Linked DNA regions of Homo sapiens: region 1 is linked to region 2. Evidence: fine-mapped expression QTL. Tissue or cell type: whole blood. Region 2 holds a variant in brackets; the other region holds the start of a gene. All regions are shown on one strand. Distances are between the middles of the regions.

Region 1 (12,795 bases), 33 kb before region 2:
CTCTTCAACCCATAGCAATCTCATTTCTTCTCTGACCACTCTACTGAAATTGTTGTCTCAGAGGTCATCAATGACCTAATTACAAAATTTAATGGAATTATCTCTGTCTTTCTTCTGCCTGACTTCATTATAGGATATAGCATCATTTATCTCTTTGAAATGTAGTATACTTTAAAAAGTATAAGTTTTAAAGCAAAGAGACCCTTGTTTAAATTTGTGTTCATCTTCTACTAGCTGTGTGAACTTGGGCAAGTCACCTTGTAAAATCTCTCATCATCTTGAAATAGGGCTTTTGATATTTATTTCTCAGAGTTGTTGCAAGAGTCAGCTGGGATTTTGTGGGTGAAGCACTCAGCACAGCGCCTGGCTTAGTGTAGCCATGCAATAAACGCCTCCTTTCTCCCCTCGGCTTCCCAGTGATTGCTGTTTCTTGGTTTTCTTCCAGAGGTTCCTCCTTTTCCTTGCCTATCTCCTCTCATTCCACATTTTTCCCCTGCCCTATTTCAGATTTTCTCCATCTCTTACCAGAACTATTTGCCATTCATATGGTCAATATTCCAAAAATATTGGCTGATTGAATGATAGTCTCCTAATTGGTTTTTATGGTTCCCATCTGCTTTTTTCTCCAATTCAAATTTCATGCTGTCACCAGAGTTGATGCTTCTCAAATACAGGTTAGTAATGCAGTCCCCCAACACCAAAAAAAAAAAAAAAAAGAAAAAAGAAAACCACCAAACCCAAACCAATCTGAATAGCAACCCTTGCCTAAAGAATAAAATCTATAATTCAACACTAGGCTAGGTGTGGTGGCTCGCACCTGTAATCCCAGCACTTTGGAAGGCTGAGATAGGAGGATCCCTTTGGACCAGAAGTTCAAGACAAGCCTGGACAACATAGCAAGACCCTGTCTCTAATTAAAAACAAACAACCAACCAAAAACCCTTCTGCACTGCAATCTGACCCCTCATTTGTCCAGCCTCATTGTCTAATCCTGTATGTCTCACCCTATGCTCTGACTTATCTTTTCCTATTTTCAAAACCTCTTTGTGAGTTTTCACTCCTCAATGCTTTTATTCAAACTGCTAACACCCTATTCTTTTTTATTGAAATTCTGACTTGAAGTATTAACTTAAATACCCATTCCTCCATAGGACCTGCTTAGACTACCTCTTTTCCTCTAGTTAAAATTTATCAATCTTTCCAGTCACACCTCTTGTGCACTTGTATTTTGCACTTAATTAATTCTGCTTTGAGGGATCATGTGCTCCAATGCACCATGTGTATCTTATTTATCTAGCTATATCCCAAGGACTTCCTGAACAAGGAGCTTTACACAGTGTTCTAGCGTAACAACTACTTGTAGAATTAAACTGAGTTGAAAATCAACAAGAATAGTCCTGTTTCCTACGAAGGGTATTATAAAGGAAACTTATACATAACAAAGGCTAACATTTATGGAGCACTTACTGTGTGCCAAACTCTGTTCTAAGTGCCCTACACAGCACTAATGCTCACAATCACTCCAGCAAGGAGATGCTATTTATTTACTTAATTTTTCAGATGAGAAACTGAGTTGCAGAGAAGTTAAATAACTTAACCGTAATAAAACTGCTAGCAAGTGATGGAAACAGGTCCAAAACTCAGGTGGCTTGATTTTGGGTCTGCACACTCAATCACTAGTCGGTAGTTAGTATAAGCTGATGATATTTTGCAATGCTTCTGAGGAAAGCAACAGCAGAAATTCCAGCACATGCCACCTGCTTTCCTTGGGATGGGCAGCCAAGGACAGGTGGGGCGACCTCAGAAAGTCTTTTGCAGCCCTGGTTTGCACATAAGTCCTTGCAAGATTTAGAGGACAAGAGATGATGTCCTTCTGTGCCTTGGTATCCTTGGTGTCAAGTACAAGGGCAGCCAAATATTGTGCAAAACATTCTTCTTTGACGCCTAAGCCTTTTGATGAGCGATTAAACCAAGGAGGCTTATCTGGTGACAGTCCTTCTCCTGAGGTGACGTCACTGCTCACCCTGGCCCCTGTGAGGGCTGTTGGAAACAAAGAGCTGACCCTGTGTACTCCCCAAGGTTGAGAGCACTGCCCAGGGCTCTATTCTCGGAAACTGAGTCTCCATCAAAGTCCTGAAGCATTTTCTCCCTTTTTCCTTGGAAGGAGAAGCTGGATGTGGTGGTTGGTCAACTGTGGTTTGATTTAGGTTGTATTTAACCAGCACCAGCCTCCTCCTCCACACTGCTTCTCTAACCACACCAATTCAGTGCAGCATCCTCTGACCCTTCTTAAAGTAGTGAGCCCCTCCCTGGGGAAATGAAGGGAGGACTCGTGAAAGAAACAAAAGGAGATACCATGGGGAGGAGTTTAAGTTATTCCCTCCAATTCTTTCTCCTGTCTTCATCCCCGAACCCTCACTTCCTTGCTTCAGCACCATCCTGGTAATTGATCCCTGTATTTCTAGTTCACCAGTGCAAGATATTAAAGCTATTTGTGGGTCTCAGGGAGGTGTTTAGCATCCGGTGATCAAAATGCCTTTGAGCCAGTAACAGGTCAGCTCAAACAGACTTTGTTTTAGGTGTAAGTGAATTGCTTCTACTTTAAAAAGAAACAATCTGGGTCTTAGAGACCCACAGTAGTAGGGTGGGCTGGGCCTTTAAGAGATCATCTCTTTCCTGCCACTGCCTCTAAGTAGGCTCCAGTTACCTTTAAAAGACCTACAGAGAAAGCCATTCTCTACCCAGTCTTAGTCATTCAGGCCAGTCCTTAACCAGCCTTACACTCGGTAAATGTTTATCATCTATCCCAAATCCCCCATGCTGCACTCTACAGAAATGCATTTCCTCTTGCTCAGCAGCAAAATGAGAGCTGCAGAGTGAAATCTGGCCATCCTTCATTGTGTGTTTGAAGACAGTCAACATTGCTCTCAGCATCATCCACGTTTCTGTCCGTATTTCCAGCTTCCCTGCCAGCCTCAAATTCCACTTCTTCTATGCTCACTGCCTGCTTCTTTCCCTCATAATGGGCCAACCGTTGGGATTGGCCGTTCGAATGTTGTGTAGGGGAGAGACTCTGTGTCCCAGTGTTGAGAGTGGGGATTGTCTGTCTTGCAACAACAGTGTTGTGGGGAGACATTCCTGTGTCTTTGGGAGTTCCCTGCCTTGGCATCCTGGAGCAGGTGCAATAAGGTGTCCGGGGTGCCAGCGCCTTCCAGTTCACATTTACTTGGATGTGTACCCAGGAGAAATCTAGTCTGGAAGCTACTATGTTTCACTAAAGTTTTCCCCTGGAAATTGAATAATAATAGTAGTTTATGAGTCTCCAGAAGTAATAGACAGGTGTTGGGTGTCTTGTGTCTGTAGGAAAAGGGAGCTTGTGCAGCTGAGAATAAACAACAGTTGCTTGGTAATATGACCTCCTTTCATTTAAAGTCAGAGGCCTGGCTGCAGGTGGGGAAAGGGGAGGCTGGGTTGTTCTGGTTACCACCTGTCTGGGGAAGCGGGGAATGGGGGCAAAGGTGAGGTCTGTTTCACAGAGAACTGTGCGGTCGCTGAGAGCCAAATATTGGAGAGAAGAAATATGGGAGTGGGGAGACTTGGGGAGCAAGTGCAATCGCTGAGATTCTGACGCAGGGCATGAAAACTCTTTGGTTCTGATGTTGGCACCAGCTACTTTGAGAAATTGTTTCTCTACACTTTTGGAGGCCTCTAAACTGGCTTCAGAAGGCATGAGTTCCAATTCTGGCCTTGTCATTGATTAGCCATCATCATTTATCTGTGACCTTGGATAAACTACTGAATCTCTCTGTCCCACTTTCATCAATTGTAAAGGCCGCTGGGAAGACACAGTGTGATGTATGAAAGCTCTTTCCAAAAGTGTAAAGGTCACCATACACATAACAAGCACAGGATACTGGAGAGAATTAAAGGAAGGAGAAACTTGATTCTTTTCTCAAGGAGCTTATAGTCTTAACAGTAATGTTGGCTCACAGCTGTAGGGCATTTCATATTTCAAAGCAGTGCCTCATTTATTATCTTACTTGCCAGAGCCATGGGCAACAGAAACAGCTGGAAAGGGCTGAAGGATGTGTTTTGAACAGGGTTTTAACGGTCAAAAGGGTTATGGCTTGAAAAAAAGAAGGGACTGCAGGTGCAAGTGAGTAAGGACAGCGTTCAGGCTAAGAGAGCTCAGGGTATCTGCTTCCCAATCAAGTGAAACATTTTAGATTCCTGCTTGGAGGTTTTCCCTCAGGCCGGGTGAAATGTAAATGATCACTCTTAGCCACTGCTGTGCCCAAGGCTTGAATTAAATCTCACAGGATTTCAGTTCCAGAATCTACTGTGAGTGGGAAAAGTGGCTGAAGTGTGTGGGAAGAGGGTGCTGGTGGCTTTTCTTCCTTGTAAGAGGTATACACTTAAATTCAGAGTGCCCAGAACAAACTTAAAGCTTCCTCCCTTGTTTCTTCTCCCTCTTCCCAAGCTGCCCATAGAATCTTCTGGCCCCTGTCTTGTGGACCATCCTTTTGTGTTTTTGGCCTCCAAGCGAATGGTGGTGTCCTGGCTTCCTTTCTTCCCATAAGCCCCTGAGACCCTCATCTTCTATGTCAAGAGCCCGCCCAAAACTCAGGTTCCTTGAACTGGGAAGTTATCAGATCCCTTGCAAAACACTCGTCCTTGGAGGAAGTACAAGGCAGTGAACAAACTCTGTGGAACTTGGCTTAGCTCCCGATCCTGAAGTTTGGAGTTACAGTGCAATCTCCTCAGCATCCCTGGAGCCGGAAGAGGTGACCTTGGCAGGCCTGACACCTGATGGCAAGGGGTTTCTGCTTTCTGTGCTATGTCCAGGAGTTAAAGTAGAGTGAAACCAAATCACTCCTGAGAGGGCCAGTGGCTGGATTTCAGAAACGGGGGCTGACATTCCAGGGAGTCATTTATGGGAGGGCCTGGCCTTGGCTCTTCAGCCGCAGTATCTCTCTCCCTGAGGAAGAAATATTTCCCTTGGTTTCCCAGCCTCTCAAAAGTTGTGTAATGTCAGGATGCCTTGAGCTTTTCCATACTTGACAAGTGTCATTGCAGAGCTTGGTAGATCCATAGCCAGCTGTCATCCTTGATGTCTTGCTGAACTGCAGGGATGTATTTACTTGCAGTGAATTCTTGTGATCTTTAGGGATGTGAATTTTCCTCAGCTTCGGGACACTTGTGAAATGTGACTTTTGTCCTGGCACGGAAGCTGGGCATTGGCTCCCAGATGGAAACTGGACTCTGAGAGAGGCAGAAAAGAAGGGTGGATCAGATTGTGGACTTCATGGTATGTTCTTGGGTGCTTCTCATGATCTCTTTGAAAGTTACTGACCAGGCTGGGCATGGTGGCTCATGCCTGTAATCTCAGCACTTTGGGAGGCCAAGGTGGGCAGATCACTTGAGGCCAGGAGTTTGAGACCAGCCTGGGCAATATAGCAAGACCTCATATCGACAAAAAGAAATAAAACTTAGCTGCGTGTGGTGGTGCGCACCTGTACTCCCAGCTACTCAGGAGGCTCAGCTGGGAGGACAGCTTGAGCCCAGGAATTCAAGGTTGCGGTGAGCCATGACTGCACCACTGCACTCCAGCCTGGGCAACAGAGTGAGACTTTGTCTCTTAAAAACAAAACAAAACAAAACAGTTACTGACCCAAGAGACAAATGCATTGGGCTGGGGTTGAAGGAGGAGAATGGCTGCTACAGCCCTGCTCTAGGAGCTGGGCTGGGTTAGACTCAGTGCCCACAGAGAGCACCTAAATAGGATGGATCGGTTCTAGGGTTGATGATCTCTTAGGGCCTGGGTCTAGAGAGTGAGTGTGGTTCAGCACATCTTGGGATGCTACCAGGACTGAACCAGACTTCCTAGGTTCCATGACATGGGGACATACTGGATTCTGTGACTCAGTCCATGGCAGGCTGAAGCAGAACTGAATCAGCCCTCAGCAATGTAAGGGGGGGTACCCTCGACTCCCTGGGGCTCTGTTGGATGCATTGCTTTGTGGGTGCTCACCGACTCCTCATTTCATTCTTTGCTAGGGACGCGGCTATGGTACTGGCAGCTGGCTCATGTACAGGGTTCAGGCCCCATTTTCCTTACTGGTCCTGTGTCCTTTGTCTCTCAGACCCTGTTGTCTGTCTTTCCTTGGTATGTCATGTCTGGTATCCTCAGCTCACGCCGCCACGGGAGAACTGTCCTCTTCTCAGCTTGTCATTTTGGAAGCAGCCTCCAGCAACCTTGCTTTCCTCCTCTGACTATACTCCGGCCTGCAGTGCCACTACTCACGCCCCCAAATAATTTAAACTGCCTTTCTTAGGAGACAAGAGCTAGTTGAAAAGTCTCCTCATTTTCCTTCAACCCTGTATCATGGGTGGCCTGAGAGAGTGAGGACTGAATTCATTGACTCCCCTTTCTCTGCACCCCCCACCCCCAAGGAAATAGCCGAGTTCGACTAATGGGAGTTGCCTGGCCAATCGTTGCCCTGAGAAAGTTTGGTTTGTGATCCTATTTCAGTAGGCTGATTGGAGCAGCCTTTACTTGGAGGTCGAGTCCCTCCCCGAGGGAATCCGTGTACAGTTACACTAGCGGTCGCTGCCAGTGCTAGCCCATTCAGGATAGCCCCCCTCACCCCGCCCCCAGCCCCCGCTCCTCCTCCTCCTTTTTTGTTTTTATCCAGTGTCTCGCTTCCTCTCTCTCTCTCTCTCTCTGTCTCTCTCTCCCTTTCCCTCCTACCACTGCCTCTTCCTCCCGCTCTCTACCTCCCTGCAGCGCCAAGCCGGCTCCCCAACCTGGTCTGCTGAACGCAAACCGCTGAGAGTTTGCTGCACCGCCCCCTGGGGCCCCTGGCTGCCGAGTCCCGCTAAGGCAAAGACGCCAGCAAGCGAGGAAGCGCAGCGGAAGAAAAACAAGCGGGCGCGCGAGGGGAGCCCCAGGAGGGCTGCCGAGTGGCTGGCAGGCGGCTCCCGCCCCTCCCGGGTGGCCTCGCCGGCGGCTGACGGCCCGGAGGACGCGCGCTCCGAAAAGTTAGACTCCGGGCGGCGGCGCGCTACGCCGCGTCCCCTCGCGTCCCTTCCTCGCTGCGCTCCGGGAAAGGAACTTGTTCCTTCGGCCCCAGGATTGGGGAGTGTGCCGCGGGGCCGAGGGTGGGGAACAGCCAGAGGGAGACGCGAACCAGGCCGCTGGCGGAGGGCTCAGGGGGAGCGCAGAGGCGACGGCCCCCATGCCGGCGGCCAACATGATGGAGAACCGGCCGCTGCCCGCCCTGCAGGTGCCCGAGCCGCAGGGTGCGCCCGAGGGCAGCCCGGTCTGGTCCAGTTCGTCGACCCCCACGCTTCGCCGCCGGCGCTTCAAGATGCGCCGCATGAAGAACGTACAGGAGCAGAGCCTGGAGGCCGGGCTGGCCCGGGACCTGCCCGCCGTCTTGGCCCCCGGCAAGGAGTTCCTGCAGCTGCCGTCCATCGAGATCACGCCCTCCAGCGACGAGGACACCCCGTGGTCCAACTGCTCCACACCCAGCGCGTCCCCGCGCCGAAAACGCTTCCTCCTCCGCAAGTGGCTGAGGGTGAGGGAGCGGAAGGAGTGCAGTGAAAGCAGGTACGTCCCCGTTCCGCCCGTCTCCTTCCCTTCCCTCCCGTCCTCTCCAGAGCCGTCCAGGGCCCCGGGGCATTCTGGGGGAAACGTCCTGGGGGAGAACAGGAGCCCGTCACCAGAGGCGCTTCTGGAGGGCGCTGCGCCTGGTCCCAGGGATGGTGGCATTCAGCTTCCACGCGTGCCACCCGCTCCCCAACTCAGGGTGAGGGGCTTCATGTTGCACGACACGTTTACGTGGGGCTTTACGCTGCATTCCATCTCCCTTGATCCTCGCAGCGAAATAAATAATAAAAATAATAACAGCTAATAGTTATTGAGCCCTTACCATGTGCGGGCCACTATGTTGCGCACTTCATGTACCTCCAGATTTCATCCCTACGCAAACTCTCTGAGGTAGGTATTACTATGGCTCCCTTTCTACAGAAGGAGATAGTAAAAGGCCAGAGAACAGTTAAGTGGTTTATATTTCAGGACTCCGTTTCAATCTTATTTTATGTTTGGCCACACCGGATTGCCTTAACTGGCTCACTTGTGTGGAAGTGAAATATTGACATTGAGTGAGTCACATTTCCTACCATATCAGAGTCTTTAGACATCGATACCTACAAGACTGTGGTTTGTACCAGCTAGTTTTTTGCCTAGGTCAATGTGGCATCTGGGTAATGGGAGAAGGTTGAGCTTCCCTCACGTAGAGAATTGCTGCAGGGCGCCCTAGAGCAGCTCTACACAGCCCTGGTCAGGACTGCTGCTTCAGGAAGTTGTGTCTGAGCCAAGCCCCTTGCCTGGTGGAGGGCAGGGAGTCCTCACTTGTTCATCGGTACCACGAATCCTACATATTTACTTTGAGACTTTAGGGTCCTGTCTCTTAATGGATTTGTGTTCTTGTGCGGAGCAACTGAGTCATTGATCACTTTCCCTGGAATTCCTTCTCCAAATCTGTTCAATTACATTGATTTCAATTCAGTAAGTACTTACTGAATATTTCTGTGAGCTCAGTCTAGTAACAGCTAATAGTGGTGATGTTGAGGAGGGTGTGGGGGAAGGATAGGTAGAGTAAGGGGTTGTAGAGGCTGAGAAGGAAGATGAGGGGAGGCTTGTATAAGAAATGAACACCTGGGCACAGTGGCTCACACCTGTAATCCCAGCACTTTGGGAGGCCGAAGCGTGTGGATCACTTGAGGTCAGGAGTTCGAGACCACCCTGGCCAACATGGCGAAACTCCATTTCTGTTAAAAGTACAAAAATTAGCTGGGTGTAGTGGCAGGCTCCTGTAATCCCAACTACTTGGGAGGCTGAGGCAAGAGAATCGCTTGAACCTGGGTACAGGGGCTGCAGTGAGCCAAGACTGTGCCACTGCACTCCAGCCTGGGCCACAGAGTGAGACTCTGTCTCAAAAAAAAAAAAAAAAATTGAAGACCTGTGGGAGCCATTGGAAAACATACTGTGCTGTGTGGTACTGATTGTACTAGAAAAGAGAGAGTTCTGGAGAAGTAGAGGAAGACTTCTTGAAGGAAGAGGCTGACACCATGACAAATACAGATGGGTAGTAGAAAACAGCAGGAAAAGAATGAGGTTGGGTGCATAAGACTGGCTGAAGGGAACAATATGAAGAATGGCAGGAGAAACAGGATGAGCCATGTGTCTTTGCGGGGTGGGGACTGAGGAGTAGGATCCGTTATGCAGAAGATGGGCATTTTGGGCCTTCCAGAGTTTATCTTTTCTGTTTGCAACAACTGAGCATGGTTCTCTCAGCAGGTGCAGATACAGAGCTTTGTTCCGTGGATTTTTGTGGACGCTGGGGATAGAAGTTCTTTCTGTTTGGTACTTCATCCTGCTACCCTTTTCACAGAGTAGAGGGAAATGGGGCAAGCTTGGTGGGAGCTAACCTTGAACTAAAGTAGTTTGTCAGGCCAGGGGCGGTGGCTAATGCCTGTAATCCCAGCACTTTGGGAGGCTGAGGCGGGAGGGTCACCTGAGGTGAGGCGGGAGGGTCACCTGAGGTCAGGAGTTCGAGACCAGCTTGGCCAACATGGTGAAACCCTGTCTCTACTAAAAATACAAAAAATTAGCCAGGTGTAGTAGCGGGTGCCTGTAATCCCAGCTACTCGGGAGGCCAAGGCGGGAGAATTGCTTGAACCCGGGAGGTGGAGGTTGCAGTGAGCCAAGATCGCGCCATTGCACTCCAGCCTGGGCAACAAGAGCGAAACTTCATCTTAAATGAATAAATAAATAAAGTAGTTTGTCATGGCTTGTCGGCTTTTCCCTCCAATGTAAAAGAAACTAAAAGAGACCTTCTTTTGATCTTGAGATTCTGCCATATATACTGAGGACAAAATATGGTAAAAAGAGCCGGGTGCAATGGCATGGCCTGTATTCCCAGCTACTTGGGTTGTGGTGTGAGGATCACATGAGCCCAAGAGTTCAAGGCTTTAGTAGGCTATAATGGTGCCTGTGAATAACCACTGCATTTCAGCCATGGTGAGACCCCCACCCCCAACGCTTAAAATGTTACGTGCGTGTGTGTGTGTGTGTGTGTGTGTGTGTGTGTGTCTTTGTGTGTATGAAGAAAAAAATCTTGCATTGCTGGCTAGGATGGGGATGACAGTAGATTTGGTTAGATTTAGGAAGGTATTCCTGGTTTCGAGAGTTGTCTATGTGTGTAGTGGAACCTTCATTTTGTTGGATTTGGGGACATATCCTTAAAATTTGGCAGGATTTTCATCTAGATGTAGTTCAGGCAGTTATTTTAAGTGGTGACTTTTGGATTAGAAGAACCTATGTATCAGCCGGGCGCAGTGGCTCACGCCTGTAATCCTAGCACTTTGGGAGGATGAGGCAGGCAGATTGCCTGAGCTCAGGAGTTAGCCACCAACTTGGGCAACACGGAGAAACACCGTCTCTACTAAAAATACAAAAATTAGCCAGGTGTGGTGGTGGACACCTGTAGTCCCAGCTACTCGGGAGGCTGAGGCAGGAGAATTGCTTGAACCTAGGAGGTGGAGGTTGCAGTGAGCCGAGATCTCGCCACTGCACTCCAGCCTGGGCAACAGAGTGAGACTCCGTTTCCAAAAAAAAAAAAAAAAAAAAAAAACCACCACCAACAAAAAACAAGAACATATGTATCTGAAAAGGCAGACTCTGGATTCAAATTCAAATTCGTGTGACTCACATCTACTCTTAGCTACTGTTATACTGCCTTCTGTTGGAATCTATTTGGATTGTGTGTAAAACAAAGCCCCATCATTTTTAGGCCTCGAAGATGAAAGGCTTCCTTCCAAGAAAAGCAGCAATCAAGTGAATAGGTGCTCGTAGATACCACCAAGTGGCCTGAGAAGGAATTGGTGGCGGGGTGTGGTAGCTCATGCCTGTAATCCCAGCACTTTGGGAGGCTGAGGAGGCAGATCATTTGAGGCCAGGAGTTCGAGACCAGCCTAGCCAACATGGCAAAACCCTGTTGCTACTAAAAATACAAAAATTAGCTGGACATGGTAGTGCGCGCCTGTAATCCCAGCTACTCAGGAGGCTGAGGCATGAGAATTGCTTGAACTTTGTGGGCAAAGGTTTCAGTGAGCTGAGATCACACCACTGCACTCCAGCCTGGGCGACAGAGCAAGACTCCATTTCCAAAAGAAAATAGAATTGGCATTTAGAGGCAATGGAGTGCAGGGAACATTGGACTTAATATCAGAAGACAGCTGTATATTTAAGTTCTATCATCGATTAGCTATGGAGATTAGCTTGAGCATTTCACTTTACCTCCATGAGTTTCACCTTCTTCATTTGTGGAAGAGGATCTCTGTGGGTTAATGGGAAGTCTGAAGAGTAGTGAATGTGAAAATGTTTTGCAAACTTCCTCTTGCTGTGCAAGGGTGAAGGCTTATTTCATTACTCTGTGAGTCTCTCACATGGAATGGATGTTTGCTTAAAAGTATGAGGTTACATACTCACGTGTCCTGGAGCAGCACCTGAGCCTCCTCACACAATTCAGGATTTGGAAATGATGGTTGGAAAATGGCTCTGCTCTGGCCTGGATTAGGGAGGATTAGCATACCAGGCCCAGCATGACGTCTCCACATTCCCCACCCCAAATCTCCTGCTCCAAAAGAGAGAAAAACACCTTTCAGGCTTGCTATGAAATTCAGCGTGATGTGGTAGAAGTTAAGTGGCTGAGAGGGCCATAGCTTGTGGATTTCTTTTAATTTTTGTTTTTTCATTATTTGTTTCATTATTTGTTTGTTTGTTTGTTTTTTTACTTGTCACTGACTTGAAGCTCAAGCTTGCGGATTTTCACTGCACAAAGTTGAAAATATGAAGAGGATTAGGAGACCCTTTTCTTCTCCTTAAACCCTAGGAAGGAAGAAGTGGAACAAATGGTAAAGACAGCATGGCTTACTAACTTTCCAGTGTTCACTGGAATACTCCAAGACCAATCATGTTCATCTTTGTATCGTCACAGCACTGTACCTGACCTCTTACAGTGATCTATAGATCTATAGATGTTTGTTGATGAGTTAATAATGAGTAAATAAATGATTCCTTTTTCTCTACTGTTTAAAGTGAAATTCTTTTATTCATGAGTGTGGGAAAATTTCCAAAAGGAGATGAGTACAGAGCTGAGTTTTTAAAAACAGCTTTATTGAGATATAATTTATATAATATACAATTCACCTATTTAAAGCATAATTCAGTGGTTTTTAATATATTCACAGCTATGTACAACCATCACCACAGTCAGTTTTTAAAAACGTTTGTTGCCCCACAAAGAAACTCATACTTTTTTTTTTTTTTTTTTTTTTTGAGACGGAGTCTCCCTCTCTCACCCAGGCTGGAGTGCAGTGGCTCAATCTCGGCTCACTGCAGCCTCTGCCTCCTGGGTTCAAGTGATTCTCCTGCCTAAGCCTCCTGAGTAGCTGGGATTACAGAAGCTCGCCACCACGCCCAGATAATTTTTGTATTTTTAGTAGAGACAGGGTTTCACCATGTTGGCCAGGTGGGTCTTGAACTCCTGACCTCATGATCTGCCCACCTCAGCCTCCCAAAGTGCTGGGATTACAGGCATGAACCACTGTGCCTGACTGAAACTCATACTTTTTGGCTAGCACCTTCACCCTCTCCATCCCATTTCCCCAGCCCTAGACAACCACTGATCTATAGAGAGCTGAGTTTTGAAGGGTTAACAAATGCCT
Region 2 (12,795 bases):
ACCAGGAGTTTGACATTCTTGTTCTCTAAGGGCAGCATTGGTGTTGTGGAAAGAGCCCCGAGAGTCAGCAAACTCGAGTTTTATTCTTTGCAGTGCTACTAAATACCTCTGTGACTTTACACTTGTCATTTACCTTCTTTGGGCTGTTGGTTTCCTGTTTGAAAAAGAAAAAATTGGGGCCAAGTGTGGTGGCGCATGCCTATAATCCCAGCACTTTGGGAGGCTGAGGCAGGCAGATCACTTGAGCCCCTGAATTTGAGACCAGCCTGGGCAATGTCATGAGACCTCGTCTCTACAGAAAATACAGAAAATAACCAGGTGTGGCCAGGCGCAATGACTCACGCCTATAATTCCAGCACTTTGGGAGGCTGAGTCAGGCAGATCACTTGAGGTCAGGAGTTTGAGACCAGACTGGTCAAAATGATGAAACTCCGTCTCTACTAAATATACAAAAATTAGCCAGGTGTGGTGGTGCACACCTGTAGTCCCAGCTACTGTGGAGGCTGAGGCAGGAGAATCACTTGAACCTGGGAGGCAGAGGTTGCTGTGAGCTGAGATGGCGCCACTGTACTCCAGCCTGGGCGACAGAGGGAGACTCTGTCTCAAAAAAAAAAAAAAAAAAGAAAAAGAAAAGAAAGAAAGAACTAGGTGTGGTGGCACATGCCTCATGCCTGTGGTCCCAGGTACTCGGGAGGCTGAGATGGGAGGATTGCTTAAGCCCAGGAGGTCAAGGCTGCAGTGAGCTGTGATGGCACCACTGCACTCTAACCTGGGTGACAGAGAGAGACCCTTTCTGAGAAAAAAAGAAAGAAAGAAAGAAAGAATTAGAACAGTTTATCCCTCGAATCCCTTCCTGCTGTGAAGTATCGGCTCATGATTTTATTAATAAAATTAGAGATTGTTATAAAATGATAACCTGGAAAGAGAGTAACAGTTAAAGGACACACTTATCAAATGAGCATACAGGAAGTGAACCAGGAAGCCACATTTCTGTGTCTCTGTTAGCTGCCTCTAAACCACGTTTGTTCTTAGACTGCTATTCTTTCCCCACTGTCCAGCCAGCGTCAGCCTACCCTCGTGGTTTAGTTCACGTGTTTTAGAATAGCCAGCAACTCCCTTCTTTCTCAATCTTTGTGTCTTCCACTTAGCCTTCAAACAGGCTTAATGGAAGATTTCTTAGCTTAGCGTCATGGGACTTTTAAGGCTAGACAGGGCCTATGTGATTGTCTAGCACACTCTGTTCATTTTACAGATAAGCAAACTGAAGTTCAGAACAATGGGGCAACTTGCTCTGTGTTCTACGGAGTCCATGACAGAGTCAGTGCTGGACCCAGCCTTATGAGCCTGGCTCTGGTGCTATTGCTCCACTGTGCTCCGTGCTCTATTTTCCACATATTTTATTTTATGTATTTGTTTTTTGAGATGGGGTCTCACTCTATCGCCTGGGCTGGAGTGCGCTGGTGCAATCACGCTTACTGCAGCCACGACCTCCTGGGCTCAAGTGATCCTCCTACCTCAGCTTCTGAGTAGCTGAGACTACAGGCATGCACCACCGCACCTGGCTAATTTCTCCACTTTTTTGTAGAGACAGGGTCCTGCTATGTTATCCAAGGTGGTCTTGAACTCCTGGGCTCAAGGAATCCTCCTGCCTCGGCCTCCCAAAATGTTGGGATTACAGGCGTAAGCCACCATGCCTGGCTGCCACATATTTTAAATAGATGAGTACCACTTTATGCATGACTCCACGATAAGTGCGTATGTATGCTACACAGAACCTAGTTGGAGTTCTGAGAGAGAGAGAGAGGAGAGGGGAGGGGATTAGGGGAATTGGCTTACATGATTATGGAGGCTGAGAAGTCCCACAACACACCGGAGACCCTGGGATGCTGGTAGCGTGGCTCAGTCCAAGTCTGCAGGCCTCAGAACCAGAGAAGCTGATGTTGTAACTCTCGGTTTGAGGCCAAAGGCCTAGAACTCAGAGAGCCACTGAGGGACAGAGAGAGGAAGAATATAATCCAACTCTGGCAGTTCCATTCACATATTCACCTTTTCTCAGTTTTTGTTTTCCAGGCCCCCAGCAGAATGGATGGTGCCCACTCACAATGAGGGCGGATCTTCCGCACCTAGTCCACTCAGACTCACATGCTGATCTCTTCTGGCAACATCTTCACAGACACGCCCAAAAATAATGCTTTACCGGGTTCCTAGGTAGTCTTTAATCCAGTCAAACTGACACCTAAAATTAACCATCACAATTACCTTCTCACTAAAATCAATCTGAGAAGAAAATGGTCATAAAGAATTTGATGCAAATCCCTTTTTTGATTTATAGGATGAACAGTATCCTAGATAAGGAAACAGTGAAAGGCTGTTTTGTTTTTTTTTTTTTTTCCCCTCCTCTTCATACTCCCCAATGTGAGTAATGGGCAAAAAATTCCAGGAGAATGGGAGCATTCTGAGTGATAAGAACAAGTATCTCTCAACATGTAGAGTGTGTATACGGGTGGGTTATTTTCAAATTTCAAGTCTGCAAATGGGTAGTTCCAGGTATGGCTTGGTGATTGAAGTGGAGGTTCTTTTGGGGCTAGTCCTTTGTGCTCCTGTAATTTCCCCCCAACTCTGAGTCTGAGCTCAGTGAGAACAATCACTTTAATGCTTAATGCACACCGTAATACACAGCGGAGTTAACAGAATATTCAGACAATCACAGACACAATGGCCTTCCTAGCCATGAGTTTGGAAAAGTGTTTCTAGGAGCTTGTTGTAGCAGAGGCTGTGTAGATGACAAAGAACATGCACTGCATTGTAGATGGGTTATAGTTATGGTGACCAGCCCTTGGAGTTAGGGCAGATTGGGGTATTTGATTGCAAAGAAATAAGACACTTCTATATATTTTTTTTTAATTTGCTGATCATGGGAAAATCTTCATGAACCCTTATCTTCTTTTTTTTTTTTTGAGATGGAGTTTTGCTTTTGTCACCCAGGCGAGAGTGCAGTGGCATGATCTGGGCTCACTGCAACCTCCATCTCCTGGGTTCAAGCAATTCTCCTGCCTCAGCCTCCAGAGTAGCTGGGATTACAGGTGTGAGCCACCATACCTGGCTAATTTTCTATTTTTAATAGAGGTGGGGTTTTGCCATGTTGTCTAGGCTGGTCTCCAACTCCCGACTTCAGATGATCCACCCACCTCGGCCTCCCAAATTGTTGAGATTACAGGCATGCACCACTGTGGTCGGCCATATTCATGATTTAAAGGAATTGAAGATAAAAGAATTGAGTTTGATAAAAAAGAGAGAGAAGAATATTATTTTCTTCAAATACTGACTTTTAAGTGAGATAGTGTGCAAAAAATCCATATACTAGGTACTCAAATACCTGTTAGTTGACCCTTCCCCTATGATGTGAACTGGTTATTCACAACTATCTTTATACTTTAAGTCCTGTTCCTAAACACACACTGAGGTTCTGGAGGGCAGGGCTGGGTCTTAGGTAAATTTGTTCTGCTACCTTCTCACTGGACACCTGGCTCACCCAAAGCTTGCCTCTCATCTGTTTTCTGTGTACAGATTGCCATTCAAAAAGTGTTTTCTGAGTGAATGAATTATTTACTTTATGGAGCATCAACATCCTTTTTATGTTCTTGTCCATTTTTATGTCCTTGTCCTCACCCTTGTCCCTTCAAGTTCAGTGGGTCCCAGAACTGAACTTGAAGAGAGTTAATTGGATATAGGCCAGGAGTGTGATTGGACATACGTGTGTGTGTGTTTCATTAAAATTCTCAAACTAAAAATAAATGGTTTGTGGATTAGTCAACTTCTGTTTTCTTCTGCTCGATATCCTGAATTATCCAGTACCTGTTGCCTCCATGCTACTGAAAAGTGACCATGTGTGGTATGACAAGCTTATCAGAAGGCTGTCAAAGTGCTTGGCAGAGAAGACATGGAGTTTAATCCTGAGTGGAAAATGGCATTGTGGAAACAGATGAATTATAGTAGATGAATATAGTAGAAAATATAGTAGATGAATTAAAGTACATGAATTATCTACTTTGTGGACCATCAAAATCCTTTTTATGTTCTTGTCCAAGTTCAGTGGGTTCCGGGACTGAACTTGAAGAGGGTTAATTGGATATAGGCCAGGAGCGTGATTGGGCAGATTTGTGGCAATTACACCTAGACACCGTGACTCCAGCCCCAGTCAATGCGGGGATTTCTCCCCAGGCCCCCCAGGGCACTCTGTGAGTGTTAATGACCAGAGTTTTTGGTTAGGACTGTTTTTATGTCTTCCAATTGGAAAAAACAAGATAATGCTTTTACCATAAGCCAGTTTTTCCCGGGGCTAAGGGCAAATGAAATTGGATGGTGGTTGGGTCAGCAGGATTTGGGGGGCGGACAGGAGTGGGGCAGGGAAGGGGAGGCAGGAAGCTGAAAGGATTCTTTCTGGAAAACAGCACAGCTTGCGGGCTGCTTGTCCTTGAGCTCCGAGGTCACTAGAGCGGTTGGTCTTTGATAGGGTTTCTGCATGAATCCCCTGCTCCTACGTTTCCTTTGTCCCTTTAGGACCCAAGAATCCATCTGCCTTCCCAGGTGCATCAGCTTCTCCTTTCCTTGGGCGCCTCTTTCCTGGGCCGTCCAGGAAGAACACAAGGCTCTCTGTGTCTTTCCCACCTCGTGACCTTTTGGAATTCACATATTTTTGGCTTTTTAAGAGGTTTGGCTTGTGTTGACTAGAGGGAAACAGGTGATAGCAAAATTAATAGCCAGTTGGGAAGCCATAGTCATAAAAAATGTCTTAAAAACATATTGAGTCTTAATTGAGTTTGGTCTTCAATCAGATGTGAATGGACCAGTGCTCCTGTTGCCTGGGCTGCTTCTAAAATGTTCTTGTCAGTTCAGTCGTCTTTCTGGGGAATCAGCTGCCCCGACTGACTCCAGGTTGGCTCCTAAATCAAGCTATGTTGACTTCAGCTGGCAGAAAAGCCAAGCTGGCACTGCTACCAGGACTGTTTCCTAAGAGTCCCCCAGGGCACCAGCATTTCTGTCTGCAGCTGGCCGAGCCCTTGTGATTCCTGTCCTTGTGGCTAAATGAGGTGGTGCTGGCCTCTCTGGTTCCCAAAGACTCCCCCTTGGGCTGCAGGCCAAACGTCACTGGCCTCCTAGAAGTCTCTCCAGCCCTGGCTCTAGCTCTGGGAAGTCCTGGCCTATGCCTTGGCACACTGCTCTGTCTTTTTTGGATTGTCTATGGTTTCTTCCCCAGCTGGTTGTTGAGACAGCTCTACTTTTTGTTGTTGTTGTTGTTTTGTTTTGAGACAGAGTTTCGTTCTTGTTGCCCAGGCTGCAGTGCAATGGCGTGATCTCGGCTCACTGCAACCTCTGCCTCCTGGGTTCAAGTGATTCTTCTGCCTTAGCCTCCCGAGTAGCTGGGATTACAGGTGTCCACCACCACACTCGGCTAATTTTTGTATTTTTAGTAGAGACGGGGGTTTCACCATGTTGGCCAGGCTGGTCTCAAACTCCTGACCTCATGCGATACCCCCGCCTCAGCCTCCCAAAGTGCTGGGATTACAGGCATGAGCCACTGCGCCCGGCCAAGATAGCTCTACTTTCAAGTGCAGGTTTTTTTTTTTTCTGGTATGGTCATTTGTTTATTTCTTTTTTTTTTTTTTTTTGAAATGGGATCTTGCTCTGTCGCCCAGGCTGGAGTGCAGTGGCACGGTCTTGGCTCACTGCAAGGTCCACCTCCTGGGTTCACGCCATTCTCCTGCCTCAGCCTCCCGAGTAGCTGGGACCACAGGCGCCCGCCACCATGCCTGGCCAATTTTTCTGTATTTTTAGTAGAGATGAGGTTTCACCATGTTAGCCAGGATGGTCTCGATCTCCTGACCTCGTGATCTGCCCGCCTTGGCCTCCCAAAGTGCTGGGATTACAGGTGTGAGCCACCGTGCC[G/C]GGCCAGTCATTTGTTTATTTCTATGGTTTCACCTGTGGCTTTGTGACCTCAGTGGCAGGTGCCATCCCCTGACAAACTGCCTCAAACTGGGCAGAGCAGACTCGTTACTTCTTGTTTCAAGGTTTTCACTTGCCTTGGACTTCCCAGATGCTCTTGCTTTCTAGCTGAGGGCTGCCACCTGCAAAGCAGAGACGGCTGACACTTGTGGCAGAGTGAACATTCAAGCTCAGCTCAGCCCCTGAGTCCCAGCCCAAGCTCAGAGTCCCTTCAGTCTCATCAGTGAGGTTATCCCTGCCACCCACCCCTTCTCCAAGTGAATGCTACGCTCCAGCACTGGAGTGTGCTTAAGGTGAAAGAATAAAGAATTCAGGGACAAAAAACCTTAAACTGAAATCCCTGTTTCTCAGATGCTTGAAGGCAGCATGCTCGTTAAGAGTCATCACCAATCCCTAATCTCAAGTAATCAGGGACACAAACACTGCGGAAGGCCGCAGGGTCCTCTGCCTAGGAAAACCAGAGACCTTTGTTCACTTGTTTATCTGCTGACCTTCCCTCCACTATTGTCCCATGACCCTGCCAAATCCCCCTCTGTGAGAAACACCCAAGAATTATCAATAAAAAAATAAATTAAAAAAAAAAAAAAAAAAAAAGAAATCCCTGTTTCTTAGCTTACCAGCACAGTTTGCTCATAGACGTGCCATGTATCCCTGTGAAGTCTTATTTTCTTCATCTTTATTATTTATTTATATTTATTTATTTATTTTAAGATGGAGTCTCACTTTGTCACCCAGGCTGGAGTGCGATGGCGCGATCTCGGCTCACCGCAACCCCTGCCTCCTAGGTTCAAGTGATTCTCATGCCTCAGCCTCCCGAGTAGCTGGAACTACAGGCATGGGCCACCACCACGCCTGACTAATTTTTTATATTTTCAGTAGAGTCGGGGTTTCACCACGTTGGCCAGGCTGGTCTCCAACTCCTGGCCCCAAGTGATCCACCCGCCTTGGCTTCCCAAATTGCTGGGATTACAGGCATGAGCCACCGTGCCCAGCCTATTTTCTTCATCTTTAAAATGGGGATCAGAGTGTATACACTTCTTATTTACCTGATGAGGGTAAAAAGTTGGAAGCATATACATGGGAGCACTTTGTAGATGGGGAAGAAGTGTTTTAATGGGAAGGTTTATTCCTAGTATTAAATACAACATATTAGTATGCAGTATCTTGAATGAATTGAAAAAAGCAGCCAGAGTTTGCACTAAAGGAGGTGTTCTCTGATGTAGCCAACAGGTTCTCTCCACCACACGGGCAGAGCTACCGTCTCACTGGTAATAACTGTGCCAACTTGGATTTGTCATTAGTCCTATGGCTCAAAGGAGACAGAGCTCTGGGTCAGCAGAGAAAAAAGTCAATGAGTTAATATTTGAATGCACCAAGGGAAGGGACAGGCCTCTGTGTGACACAGCGCCCAATAGGCCAGGGTGGAAGATATGGATCATATAGAAGGGAAATGAAGAGAAAGTGGAGAGCACAACATGCACGAAGTTGCAGGAATGAATGTGCATGGGAGATTTGGGGAGCACGAGCCCCAGAAAGGAAAACTGTGTAAAGGCCTCAGGAAGAGCTTTCTGCTGGGGAAGTCAGTTTCATGTAGTAAGGCCTTGTGTGGCAGGCAGAAAACTTTGGACTGTATTCTATGACATTATAGGAAGACTTCAAGAGACTGTAACTTGGGAAGAGACTTGACTAGAGCTGTTTTAGAAGATAACAGGGGTGGGCCATGCCTGTAATCCCAGCACTTTGGGAGGCCAAGGTGGGAGGGTCGCTTGAGCCGAGGAGCTCAAGACCAGCCTGGGCAACAAAGGGAGACCCCATTTCTAAAAAAAAAAAAAAAATTTAGCTGGGTGTGGTGGTGCACACCTGTGGTCCCAGCTACTCGGCAGGCTGGGGTGGAAGGATTGCTTGAGCCTGGGAGTTGAAGACTGCAGTGAGCCATGTTCATGCCACTGCACCCCAGCCTGGGAGACAGAGCTAGCAAGACTTGGCCTCTAAAATAGTAATAATGATAATAATAATAATAACATCTAGGCACATTAGCATGCTGGGGCCAGCTGGCATCCACTTGTAGACGCCGATTGTGCATATCATTTCCCAATGCCAATTTCACCGATAGCAGAAATCAATCATGGTGGGAGTATACATGGCAGAAATTGGCAAATAATATAAATCAGCCCCCTCCACCAATCTAGTTGTTAAACATTTGTCAGCACAGATAAAGGACCGTTTCAATAGAGTGGGATGTCAGTAGTTTTCAAACCTGAGATGCCTGTTAAAACTCCTTCAGGCTCCAACCCAGGCCCCCTGAATCAGAATCCAGGATCAATGAGGGAATGGGAACCTTTTTCTTTTCTTAAAAAGTTTCCAGGTGATTCTTATGCAGCCAAGGTGGTACTGATATTTGGACTAGAGCAAGGATAATAGGAATAGAGAGGAGAGGATGGATATAAAAGATGTTTCAAAGGTGGGAGCTAATATAACTCAGTGATAGATCGAAGGTAGGGAGTGGAGGAGAGAGAACTGCTGGAACTATTTCTGTGTTTCCTTGTTTGTACAGCTAAGTGGAGGGATGGTGATGCAGGTGACTGAGCTAAGGAAGGCAGATGGAAGTTGTTGGGGAGAAGTGAGGGTGTGGGAGGCGGGAAGGGGTAGTTTTGGACAGGCTGTGCGATGAGCCTAGGGAGGTAGGGTTTTGGTGACATCCTGTAAACAGCTGGATATGGGGGACCGGAGCTTGGTGGAACACTAGGAGTTTTAGATACAGGTTTGGGAGTGAACATGTGGCTTTTTGTCCGAGCCATGGATATGGATGGCATTGCTGGAGGAGAATGTGTCATGTGAGAAGAGAAAGAGACTCTGGATGGAACTCTAGGGGCAACTTTTCAGAGGTTGGTAGGGGAAGAGAAGCCAAGTAGAGATCAAGCAAAGAGCGGTATGTATGTTGAAAGCCCAAGTCGATGGCTCCTTAGAGAGAGGAGTTCCTTTAGGTGTTTTCGCATTTCCAGAAGCCTAACAGAAACCACACGTACATTTTTCTGTAACAAGACAACCTAAAACATTCCTTTGTTTGGCTTGAATTCTATCAATCCAGTGTGGTAAGACATGTCCTTGGAGGCTGACCTGAAGCTCTGAATGGTAGTTGTGTGTCTTTCATTAGAAACACACTTGGGGCGTGGTGTGGTGGCTCATGCCTGTAATCCCAGCACTTTGGGAGGCAGAGGCAGGCGGATCACCTGAGGTCAGGAGTTTGAGACCAGCCTGGCCAACATGGTGAAACCCCATCTCTACTAAAAAAAATACAAAATTAGCCGGGTGTGGTGGTGCATACCTGTAATCCCAGCTACTAGGGAGACTGAGGCAGGAGAATCACTTGAACCCGGGAGGCGGAGGTTGCAGTAAGCTGAGATCACACCACTGTACTCCAGCCTGGGCAACAAGAGTGAAACTCCATCTCGAAAGAAAAAAAAAAAAAAGAAACACACTTAGGAATATTGTTTGAGGGTTCTTGGTGGAGAGGAAGTTGGGACATTGTAGGAAACAGAAGTGAAAGCTCTCTGTGTGTACTGGCCTGACTCTGTGAGAGGAAATGGATGGAGAAAATACTCGAACTCCTCATTAAACTGGAGCAGTTTAGTTAAAGGGCTCAAGATCATACTGATTGTTGAAAATAAAGATTTGGGCTGGGCATGGTGGCTCACGCCTGTGATCCCAGCACTTTGTGGGGCCTACGCGGGCGGATCACTTGAGGTCAGGAGTTCAAGACCAGCCTGGCCAACATGGTGAAACCCCATTTCTGCTAAAAATACAAAAATTAGCTGGGAGTGGTGGTGGACGCCTGTTATATCAGCTACTTGGGAGGCTGAGGCAGGAGAATGGCTTTAACCTGGGAGGTGGAGGTTGCAGTGAGCCAGGATTACAGCACTGCACTCCAGCGTGGGTGACAGAGTGAGACTCTGTCAAGGAAGGAAGGAAGGAAAAGAAAGAAAGAGAGAGAGAGAAAGAGAAAGAAAGAAAGAAAGAAGGAAGGAAGGAAGGAAAGAAGGAAGGAAGGAAAAAGAAAGAGAGAGAGAAAGAAAGAAAAAGAAAGAAAGGAAGAAAGAAAGAGAAAAAGAAAGAAAGGAAGAAAGAAAGAAAGAGAAAGAAAGAAAGAAAGAAAAGAAAGAAAGAAAGAAAAAGAAAGAAAGAAAAAGATTGACTGACTGATTTGGGCATAAAATGGATTCTGGCTTGCCCTGGGCTTAAGAACTTTCTGCAGCTTTTCAGCACTGACTTCTTTCTCCAACATGGATACTCTGCATTGGGAAGCAAGAGATTTTCCACAGGCAGGAAGGGGACCCAGGGAGTAGGGGTGGGGGAAAGTGAGGGGATGGTGCGTGTGTGGAGAGTGGAGGGAGGCTGGCCTTGAGGCTGGTCCAGGGTTTTGACCAATTCTTACAAACTTCAAGTTCTGGGAAGCAACTTGGTTGACCACATTACCTTCTGAGTAAAGGTTTAGTAAGGGATCTGGTTAATTTGTATTTATTCTCTTGAGAGAGCTGAAGATTTCACTGTGAAGTTAAGTAGTGATTGAGGCCAAGGAAGCTAGTAGGATGTGGGAAACTAGAAAAAGGTGGTGTGCTCCTTTACCTAAGAGCAAGTGAAGAGAGTTAAAGCTGACAGTTTCTCCTTGCCCCTTTTCTCAGAACCCATTTGAGGAATATAATGGGGTAAGTATAATTATTTTAATTATGTGTGGTGATAGGCCTAGAATTTTATTGTAGGTGAGGGATCATTTACCCTTTGTGAAAAAGGATAAAGAATATTTATTTATTTTTCCTAGCCAGAGCTTCATGATCTGTATTCACGAGAGCTAAGGATTGGCATGAAAAGTTAAAGCTTATAGATAGGCTGGGTGTGGTGGCTTTCGCCTGTAATCCCAGCACTTTGGGAGGCCGAGGTGGGAGGATTGCTTGCACCTAGGAGTTTAAGATCAGCCTGGGCAACATAGGGAGACCCTGTCTCAATTTTTTAAAAAATTAATACTCATAGATAATTCAGAAAGAAACAAACAAAAACGTTGTAGCCTTGGTTTTCAACACCTTTTTTTTTTTTTTTTTTTTTTACTGACTTTCACTGGTTGTGCCTAAATGGAGAGCCATATTCTTTCCTGCCCACCTTCTCATGGAGGCGCTGTCAGGCTTGAGATGCAGCTTCCTCATGTTGGATAACTGAGAATTGGACCACAACTTTGACACGGGGGCAGGAAAGAGGAGCCCTGGCATTAGGAAGATTCTGGCGGGTTTTGTTACAGTGGCTTCTTTATGGGGAAGGTCCACATATGTCTAATTCAAGTCGGCATCGCCAGATGTCTGGAACCAATGCCTAAAACATAGTTGGTGGAAACATGGATGGATGAATGACATATCAGGAGTGGTGGGTTCCCTGAGGTCACGGGCCATGCCTTACACATCCAGCACGGCCTAGCAGGGTCCTTCCTTCCTTCCTTCTTTTTCTTTCTTTTCTTTTCCCTCCCTCCCTCCCTCCCTCCCTTCCTTCCTTCCTTCCTTTCTTTCTTTCCTTTTTTGTTTTTGATGGAGTCTCGTTCTGTCGCCAAGCTGGAGTGAAGTGGCGCAGTCTGAGTTCACTGCAACCTCTGCCTCCCGGGTTCAGGCGATTCTCCTGCCTCAGCCTCCCGAGTAGCTGGGATTACAGGCATGCCCACCACACTCAGCTATTTTTTTGTATTTTTAGTAGAGACAGGGTTTCACCACGTTGGCCAGGATGGTCTTAATCTCTTGACCTCGTGATCCACCCGCCTTGGCCTCCCAAAGTGCTGGGATTACAGGTGTGAGTCACCGCACCCAGCCTCAGGGTACTTTCAACATAGATGTTCAAAAAGTATGCACAAGGAAGGAAGGTGCAATCTGTGCTGATTTGAGAGTACTCAGCAAGGCGTCTTTCTGGGCAGACCAGTGAGTACTCAGTGGAAGTGGAGACTTTTACAAATACATCAAGGGAGGATAGGGCTAGATATTTGCACATTCATCAGATATGTATTATACACCTAATATGTGCTAGGCACTGTGGGTGGAAAAAAATGACACAATGGGACCATCGCTCTCAAATAATTTATAGTATGGTAGAAGGTTTAGGGAAATGAATCATTAATCGCTGCATCCCAAGGAGTATGATAATTGTTATGATAAAGGTTAGTGCAGGCCAGGTGCGGTAGCTCACGCCTGTAATCCTGGCACTTCGGGAGGCTGAGGCAGGTGGATTCCTTGAGTCCAGGAGTTCAAGACCAGCCTGGGCAAGATGGTGAGACCTTATCTTTACAAAAAATACAAAAATCAGCCCGGTGTGATGGTGGCACAACTGTATAGTCCCAGCTACTCAGGAGGCCGAGGTGGGAGGATTGCTTGAGCCCGGGAGGCAGAGGTTGCAGTGAGCCAAGATCCTGCCACTGCATCCAGCCAGGGTGACAGATTGAGACCCTGTATCAAAAAAAAAAAAAAAAAAAAGTAGTGCAGGGTGATATAGGACCATAATGTGGGTGGTGGTCACCAAGGAAGATTTACTACTTTTGAAGAATAATAGTAGCTATAATATTGTGTGTCTACTCATCTCTCCAAGTATGTGTGGGTGTTTATTTAATTCTCCCAAAACCCCAAGAACATAGATGCTATTGTCACCCCCATTTTATAGAGGTTGGACATCAGCAGCGTAGGTGGAAGAGTCGACTTGAACTCAGGCAGTCCAAAGCTGGGACAAAGAAGGGTGAGAGAAAAGGCTCTACCAGGCCAGTAGAAAGGCAAA

What was found.
Region 1: GRAMD1B starts here. The variant in region 2 is fine-mapped to the expression of GRAMD1B in whole blood (TOPMed, PIP above 0.99).

The regions. Positions count from the first base shown.
Region 1 is chr11:123,423,555-123,436,349 of GRCh38, forward strand. GRAMD1B (GRAM domain containing 1B) reads left to right here and starts at 6,715. Exons shown (of 20, transcript NM_001387025.1): 1 at 6,715-7,612. The coding sequence starts at 7,239. LOC124902776 (a long non-coding RNA gene) reads right to left here and starts at 7,660. Exons shown (of 2, transcript XR_007062928.1): 1 at 7,393-7,660; 2 at 1,522-5,262. RefSeq lists silencers at 6,853-7,182, 7,293-7,342.
Region 2 is chr11:123,456,316-123,469,110 of GRCh38, forward strand. The region is part of intron 1 of GRAMD1B (GRAM domain containing 1B); the gene reads left to right. Among named protein-coding and RNA genes, the nearest start is that of GRAMD1B, 32 kb to the left of the region's middle. The variant G/C (reference allele first, on the strand shown) is at 5,947.